Linked DNA regions of Homo sapiens. The protein of the gene in region 1 interacts with the protein of each later gene in a pairwise test. Each region holds a gene or a part of one and is shown in the gene's direction. Other genes may lie near its edges. The genes, in order: SPIRE1 and BBS4.

Region 1 (3,376 bases):
CACAGCCCTAAGCAGTAAGTCATATTGGCATTTCCACGTGACTGTGTTTCTATCCCGTGTACAGAGAGATCCAGAGCCCTACACTCCACGACCTGGGGGCTCACAGCACAGAACCTAGAAGCACCTGCTGACACTCTTCAACTGATTTTTAAATGTTGTTGCTTGGAGATAAAAATTACATAAGGGACTTTTTGCCTGCATTCTAGTGCAAAACATCTGAAGAGCTGTACACCCACAAGGGTGACTATTTCCCCTGAGTGGCCGTGTTGTCCCAGTGCCCTGGTTCAGTGTCTCCTGAGTGGATGACAGGTCTTCATTCTCTATCTTGAATGTATTATGGTTACTAATAGTTTTATAATGGAGGTCTAAGAATTAAAGTTGTGTGGGAGTTTCAGGACAAAGGAAGGCTAAAAGTTTGTCAAGACGTTGAGCGTATTTTGGTTACCTATGAGAAGGGTTGTGACAGTGTACAGTGGCAGCTGTTGGCCACGCTGCAGAAATGAGCTGGAGCTCATGGGTTTTCAGCTACATTTTTCATAACTTTGTAGTACATCCATCTTGAGTAAATTAAGCCACAATTTGGTACCTAGGGTCTCAAACTAAAATTTATTTTTATAAATGAATTTTAAAAGAAAAAATATCTACTTCTTTTAAAGTTAGAAGAAAATTAACCTGCTGACAGGCAACATTTTTGGGGTGCTTTCTGCACTAGTTTTCCTTGTAAATGATTTGAGTGAGTAGGTTTGGTTTCTGACGAAAGTAGACTGGAGGGTAGCATTGTATGCCTCAAATGTCTCAGTGTGTTTGGCTCATACGTGGGCTATACTGTATTATTTTGGTATGCTTACAAATGACTAACCAATCAAATTGTCATTAATGTTTGGAAAATCTGTTAATGCACATGCACAATAATTTCCTGAAAGCCATAGGACATGTCTGTAGTCAGCACCACGATAGCACCGTTTCATGAAAGGCATGGCGGCTGCATTTCATACCACATCAAAATACAGTAACATTTCTATACTAAATTAACAGTAATACCTCAAAACTGCTCCGGTAGTAGTTTTTAATGGATTGAAATTTACAGTTTAGTAAAAGGCTTAAAATTACTTATACTTATGAAATAAACTTTACCAGTTGACTAAAATAATGCATGTTAACAGTTGGTCTGTATTTGCATGTAAAAGTGGGCCACCAGAGAACCCTTATTGATTACTTAAGTGTTTACATTATTTTAAAGACTCCTGTTTAAGAGCTTTCAGAATTGTACTGGGTGAATCTCATTTATAAAACTTCCTAAGAGACTATCTGAACTCTATACTCCAGACAGTTAGGTGGGAGTATAAATCTACCCCTTTTGATGACCCCAGGCTTGAGTTTTTAAAATGACTACCCAGAAGGGCACAAGGGGGAAGGAAATGGTATTTGTATATGTATATAAATATGCACCTAGGAGAATGTGCTTTTTAAAATAATGACTACTGTTTTTATTAAAACATAAGAAACTACACCCCCAAAATAAGACTTTCATTCACATTCACAAAGCAAACATCTAGTACATGTCTTTCACTTCACTTTATGATAGTGTATTGGATGATTTGGGCATTACGATCACCTCTTACCACAGCACAGAACATACATTCTTCAACAGCATTAACGGAGTTTGCCAAGTGCATTAAAGAGGTCACGTGGAGGGTACGTTCATATGAAACAATCTGCAGAAAGTGGGGTAAGAAAGGGCACATGGCACAGTTAAAGTTGTAGAAATCAAATTACTATCATTTTTTGTTGCCAAAACAAAGTCTTACATTTAACCCCCCTTTCTACCACCCCCCTCCACACTTCACGTCAGCTACATAGTTTCCACAGGGTAATTCACTAAGAGCTTGTGGAGCTTGGTTTTAAAATCCTTAGCCTGGTCTGACTTTAGGCATAGCTTCCAGTTCTTCCTTCCGTGTCCTGGTTTCTTGTTCAGTTTTACTTCTAATCCAACAACAAAAGAAATGTCTGGCTGGTCTCAGCTAGAGTCTGATGTGTCTTAGAGCATGTGTGCGTATCTGAACCATCATCCCTGCTCTCATCTCAGCTCCCTCCAGGCCTGAGCACCGGTTCCTTTTGTCCCATACGTCATGAAGTCACACTATTGGGAAACCTGTGCTTCCCTCTCCATGGCTTAACTCCCTGTCAGTGTCGGAGTGTATAAGAATGCTTGTAAATACTGTAATATATTTATTAATATTTGAAAGGCATTCATTCAGTGGACAGTGGGAATTAACTCTCCCAAGGCAAGTGAAAATGAATGATTGACGTACGTTGATTTAACAATCTTACTAGATTTTAATTCTTAAGGATTTCAAATGAAACCAGAAGGTGGTTATGTAAGAGGCTTAAAATGATCTTATGTTTAAAGAGATTCTGTTATTAGCACCATGAACTCGTACTATGAAATTTTTAAGCCTTTTATTTTTCTAACTATATTACTGTAGGACTGGATATTAGGTGTCATATAGGAAACACAAAAGTTTATTGCTGTTTGCTAAAGCAAAATAGCAGAAAATTTTGTATATGCAAAACTGTTGAAGGACCATAGAGAAATGTGTACTACTGACGGGGCTTTTACTAGGCTTCCTGCGTGTGTAAAAGTCGAGGTATTGCTGGCATTCAGGGTGACATGATGGTACTAAATGTTTTCCATTAAAGTCTTCTATTTTAAAATTTAGAGAAAAATAAAATGGCTTTCCATCAGACTTTCTGTGTTGAGTTGCTATCGTAAGACGGTGATGTCTTTTGGTAATTAGCTGTCAGAAATCACCTCAATTGGGAAGGCAGGGTACTTTTATAAGCAGCCTGTGATCTTTGAAGAAATACAGTCTAGGCCGGGCATGGTGGTTCACGCCTGTAATCCCAGCACTTTGGGAGGCTGAGGCAGACGGATCACCTGAGGTCAGGAGTTCAAGCGATTCTCGTGCCTCAGCCTCCCAAGTACCTGGGATTACAAGTGCCCGCCACCATGCCCAGCTAATTTTTGTATTTTTGTACATGGTGGCCAACATAGTGAAACCCCATCTCTACTAAAAATACAGAAATTAGCCAGGCGTGGTGGTGTGCTCCTGTAATCCCAGCTACTGGGGAGGCAAGGCACAAGAATCGCTTGAACCCGGCAGGTGGAGATTGCAGTGAGCTGAGATTGTGCCACTGTACTCCAGCCTGGGTGACAGAGCAAGACTCCGCCTCAAAAAAAAAAAAAAAAGAAAAAGAAAAACAGTCTACAAGGACCGCACTGGAAAAATTAACATGTTGTCACAAGTGATAAGCAGCCATGAGTAGGAGAGTAAAATTACATAAAGAGTACATAACATTTTATTATGTGTCACAA
Region 2 (3,828 bases), on another chromosome or scaffold:
AATTTCATAACACAAAGGAAAACATATAGATCCGTAGATAAGGATATATGGATATGGAGGAGAGAAAAGGAAAAGACTCAAAACTCACAGAATTTTTGAAGAAATGTATAGCTAAAAATCTAAGAAGGCTACAGTCAAGGCCTTGAGGCCAGAAGACACCCCATCAAAACTGAGTAAAACTAGCCCAGTGTGGGACGCAGAAATTCTAGTATGCTACCAAAATTACTTACGGATTGCTACCAGTTCCTTAGAAGGAAAACTGAGGACTAATATTTGTATTTTCAGTATAGTTTAGAATTCTTAAAAAATGAGCAAACAGGCTGTACTTGGTGGCTCATGCCTGTAATGCCAGGACTTGTGGAAACTGAGGTGAGAGGATAACTTGAGTCCAGAGGTTTGAGACCAGTCTGGGCAACATGTTGGAGCCCCATTTCTACAAAAAACACAAAAATTAGCCAGACGTGGTGGCACGCGCCTGTCTTCCCAGCTACTGGGGAGGATCATCTGAGCCTGGGGGAAGTTGAGGCTCCAGTGAGCCATGATCATGCCACTGGACTCCAGCAGGGGCAGAGTGAGACTTTGTCTGAAAAAAACAAAAAATGAATGAGCAACTAACTCTGGCTTTCATGATTTGTGCTTATAAATCTTTTTATTTATTTATTTATTTATTTATTTATTTATTTATTTATTTATTTTGAGACGGAGTCTTGCTCTGTCGCCCAGGCTGGAGCGCAGTGGCGCGATCTCGGCTCACTGCAACCTCCGCCTCCCGGGTTCACGCCATTCTCCAGCCTGAGCCTCCGGAGTAGCTGGGACTACAGGCGCCTGCCACCACGCCCAGCTAATTTTTTGTATTTTTAGTAGAGACGGGGTTTCACCGTGTTAGCCAGGATGGTTTCAATCTCCTGACCTTGTGATCCGCCCGACTCAGCCTCCCAAAGTGCTGGGATTACAGGCGAGCCACTGTACCCAGCCTATAAATTTTTTTTATAATGCCCTGATTCCCATTATTTGATGTATTTGGATAAATATGTCATCCTGTAAATTGAAGGATTAAACTGATAAGAGCAGAAAACAGAAATTAGTACACTAGTTGATCTGGCTCAGATATAGTGCCTATGTATCAGGTGCTCCATGAATATTTGTTGGATGAATAAATGATCATAAAACTATATAAAAATGAAGAAATAACAGAATAAAATAATTTGTTCTATATAAATCCTATGAATGAGATTGAGTGGGCTAATAGAATCCTTTCCATCTCAAAATGTTCTGGAAAGTCTTGAGTAAAAGACTCATCAAAAAAATAATTCTGCTTTGTGCAGAAAGAAGGGTTGCTGACCTTTGAAGGTGCTTTTTGAGTCTTTAACATTCTTTAGTAGTATATTCCCCAAAGTTAAGAAATTCTAGTTAGATTTTAAAAAATTGAGTTAACATTTAAAAAACAGTTTTGTTGAGGTATAATACACGTACCATAAAATTTACTCAATTTAAGTACAAAGTTTGATCAGTTTTAGTAAATTTATATAGTTGCACAGCTGTCATCAGAGGCTGCTTTTAAAACATGTCCATCACTCCAGAAGGGTTCCTGTGTCAATGGAATTGCTGGGTTATATTGTTTAAGTATTTGTTTAAAAAAACAGAAACAAATCTGCCTAACTTCTGCAGGCTATATACGAGTTAACATTTCCATGAGCAATGCATGAGGGTTGTGATTTTTCCACATCCCTGTCAACACTTGGTTTGTCAGTTTGTTTTTATTTAGCTGTTGTAGTGGATGGGTAGTGATGGTGTATGGTGGTTTTAATTTGTATTTCCTTCATGAATAATGATATTGAAGATTTTTTATATGTTTATTTTCCACCCGTATCTCTTTGGTGAAATGTCTTTATAAATTTTTGTGAATTTTTAAATCAAGATCATTAACCAAATGAGCCCCTCATTTGGGCTCAAGTGATCCTTCCACCTCAACCTCCCGAGTAGCTGGGACCACAGGTGCAGGCCACGCTTGGCTAATTTTTGTATATTTTGTAGAGGCGGGGTTTTGCCATGTTGCCCAGGCTGGTCTTAAACTCCTGAACTCAAGCAATTGGCCTGCCTCACATAAGTATTCTCTTTTATTTTGAGGATTAATTTTTGTTGTTGTGAAATATATCCTACCTGTAAAAGAGTGCTTAAAATGTCGTATGTGTGCTTTAAAGGATAATATAATGGAAACTTGTGTTCCTACTGCCCAGGTTAGGAAATGGGTTATTAATAACTTTGAAACCTCCTAAATGCCTCTCTCCTACTGCATTTTCCTTCCTCCACATCAGATGTAGTGTTTCTTCAATTTTATATTAATATTTTGTACTTTTTATAGTTTTACCATATATGTTTATATATATCCTTAATATATTAGTTTTTAAAATTTGTTATTAACCTTCAGTTTATTCATTATTTCAACACTGTATAGTATCTTATTGTAGTAAAGTATGTCAATTAACTTATCCATTCCACTAGATGGAGATCGGGATTATTTCTGGTTTTTAGTTATTAAAAACAATGCTGCTGCTGGGTGCAGTGGCTTACGCCTGTAATCCTAGCACTTTGGGAGGCCGAGGCTGCGGATCATGAGGTCAAGAGATCGAGATCATCCTGGCCAACATGGTGCAACTCCGTCTCTACTAAAAATACAAAAATTAGCAGGATGCGGTGCTGCGCGCCTGTAGTCCCTGCTACTCGGGAGGCTGAGGCGGGAGAATCACTTGAACCCAGGAGGCGGAGGTTGCAGTGAGCCGAGATTGTGCCACTGCACTTCAGCTTGGCAGAGCGAGACTTCGTCTCAAAAAAAAAAAAAAAAAAAGCTGCTATAAATATGGCCAAGACTAAGGAAAGGTAAGTGAGGTGCTTAGGGTTCACATTTTATGGAGTAAGAGTAAGTACCTTCTTAAGGTTTATACCCTAGGTTCTTCACATGCCTCACTTTAGTCCTAGCCCTGAGCATTATTATGTAGGTCTTCTGATGCAATATCTAAGAGTTTCTCTAAGGTATACCTAGAAATAGATTGCTAGGTAATGGAGTAACTTTATTACTTACAGGAAACTATATGGTGGTTGTAACAATTTATGCTTCTGCCACCAGTCATGGTGGATATGAAATTATGTCTTAATGTGATAATTTACATTGCAATTTTTTTTTTTTTTTTTTTTTTTTTTTTTGAGACAGAGTCTTGCTCTGTCACCCAGGCTGGAGTGCAGTGGCGTGATCTTGGCTCACTGCAACCTCTGCCTCCTGGGCTCAAGTGATCCTTCCACCTCAGCCTCCCGAGTAGCTGAGACCACAGGCGCAGGCCACACTTGGCTAATTTTTGTATATTCTGTAGAGGCGGGGTTTCGTCATGTTACCCAGGCTGGTCTTAAACTCCTGAACTCAAGCAATCGGCCTGCCTCAGCCTACCGAAGTGCTGGGATTAGAGGTGTGAGCCACCACACCTGGCTGTTTGTTTGTTTTGAGCCTGTTCCTCAGGCTGGAGTGCAGTGGTCCAATCATGGCTTGCTGCAACTCCGCTTCCTGGGCTTAAGAGATCCTCCCACCTCAGCCTTCTGAGTAGCTAGGACTAAGGGCACCTGCCACTATGCCTGGCTAATTTCTAAAGTTTTTTTTATAGAGGCAGAGTCTCGCTGTTTTGCCCAAGCTGTTCTCAAATTTCTAGGCTCGTGTGATCCTCCTGCCTCAGCCTCCCAAAGTGCTGGGATTATAGGTGTGAGCCACCACACCTGGCTGATCTATCTGTCTTAAACTGGAGAATTGCATTTTTTTCTACCTCCTTTCTTTTTTTTAAAAAA

Evidence for each region.
Region 2: the proteins of SPIRE1 (region 1) and BBS4 interact in a two-hybrid assay, tested with the Homo sapiens proteins (one large-scale study listed by BioGRID and IntAct).

The regions. Positions count from the first base shown.
Region 1 is NC_000018.10:12,445,883-12,449,258, reverse strand, and holds the end of SPIRE1 (protein spire homolog 1), read left to right. Parts: 3' UTR 1-2,747; downstream 2,748-3,376.
Region 2 is NC_000015.10:72,689,133-72,692,960, forward strand, and holds part of BBS4 (BBSome complex member BBS4), read left to right. Parts: intron 1-3,828.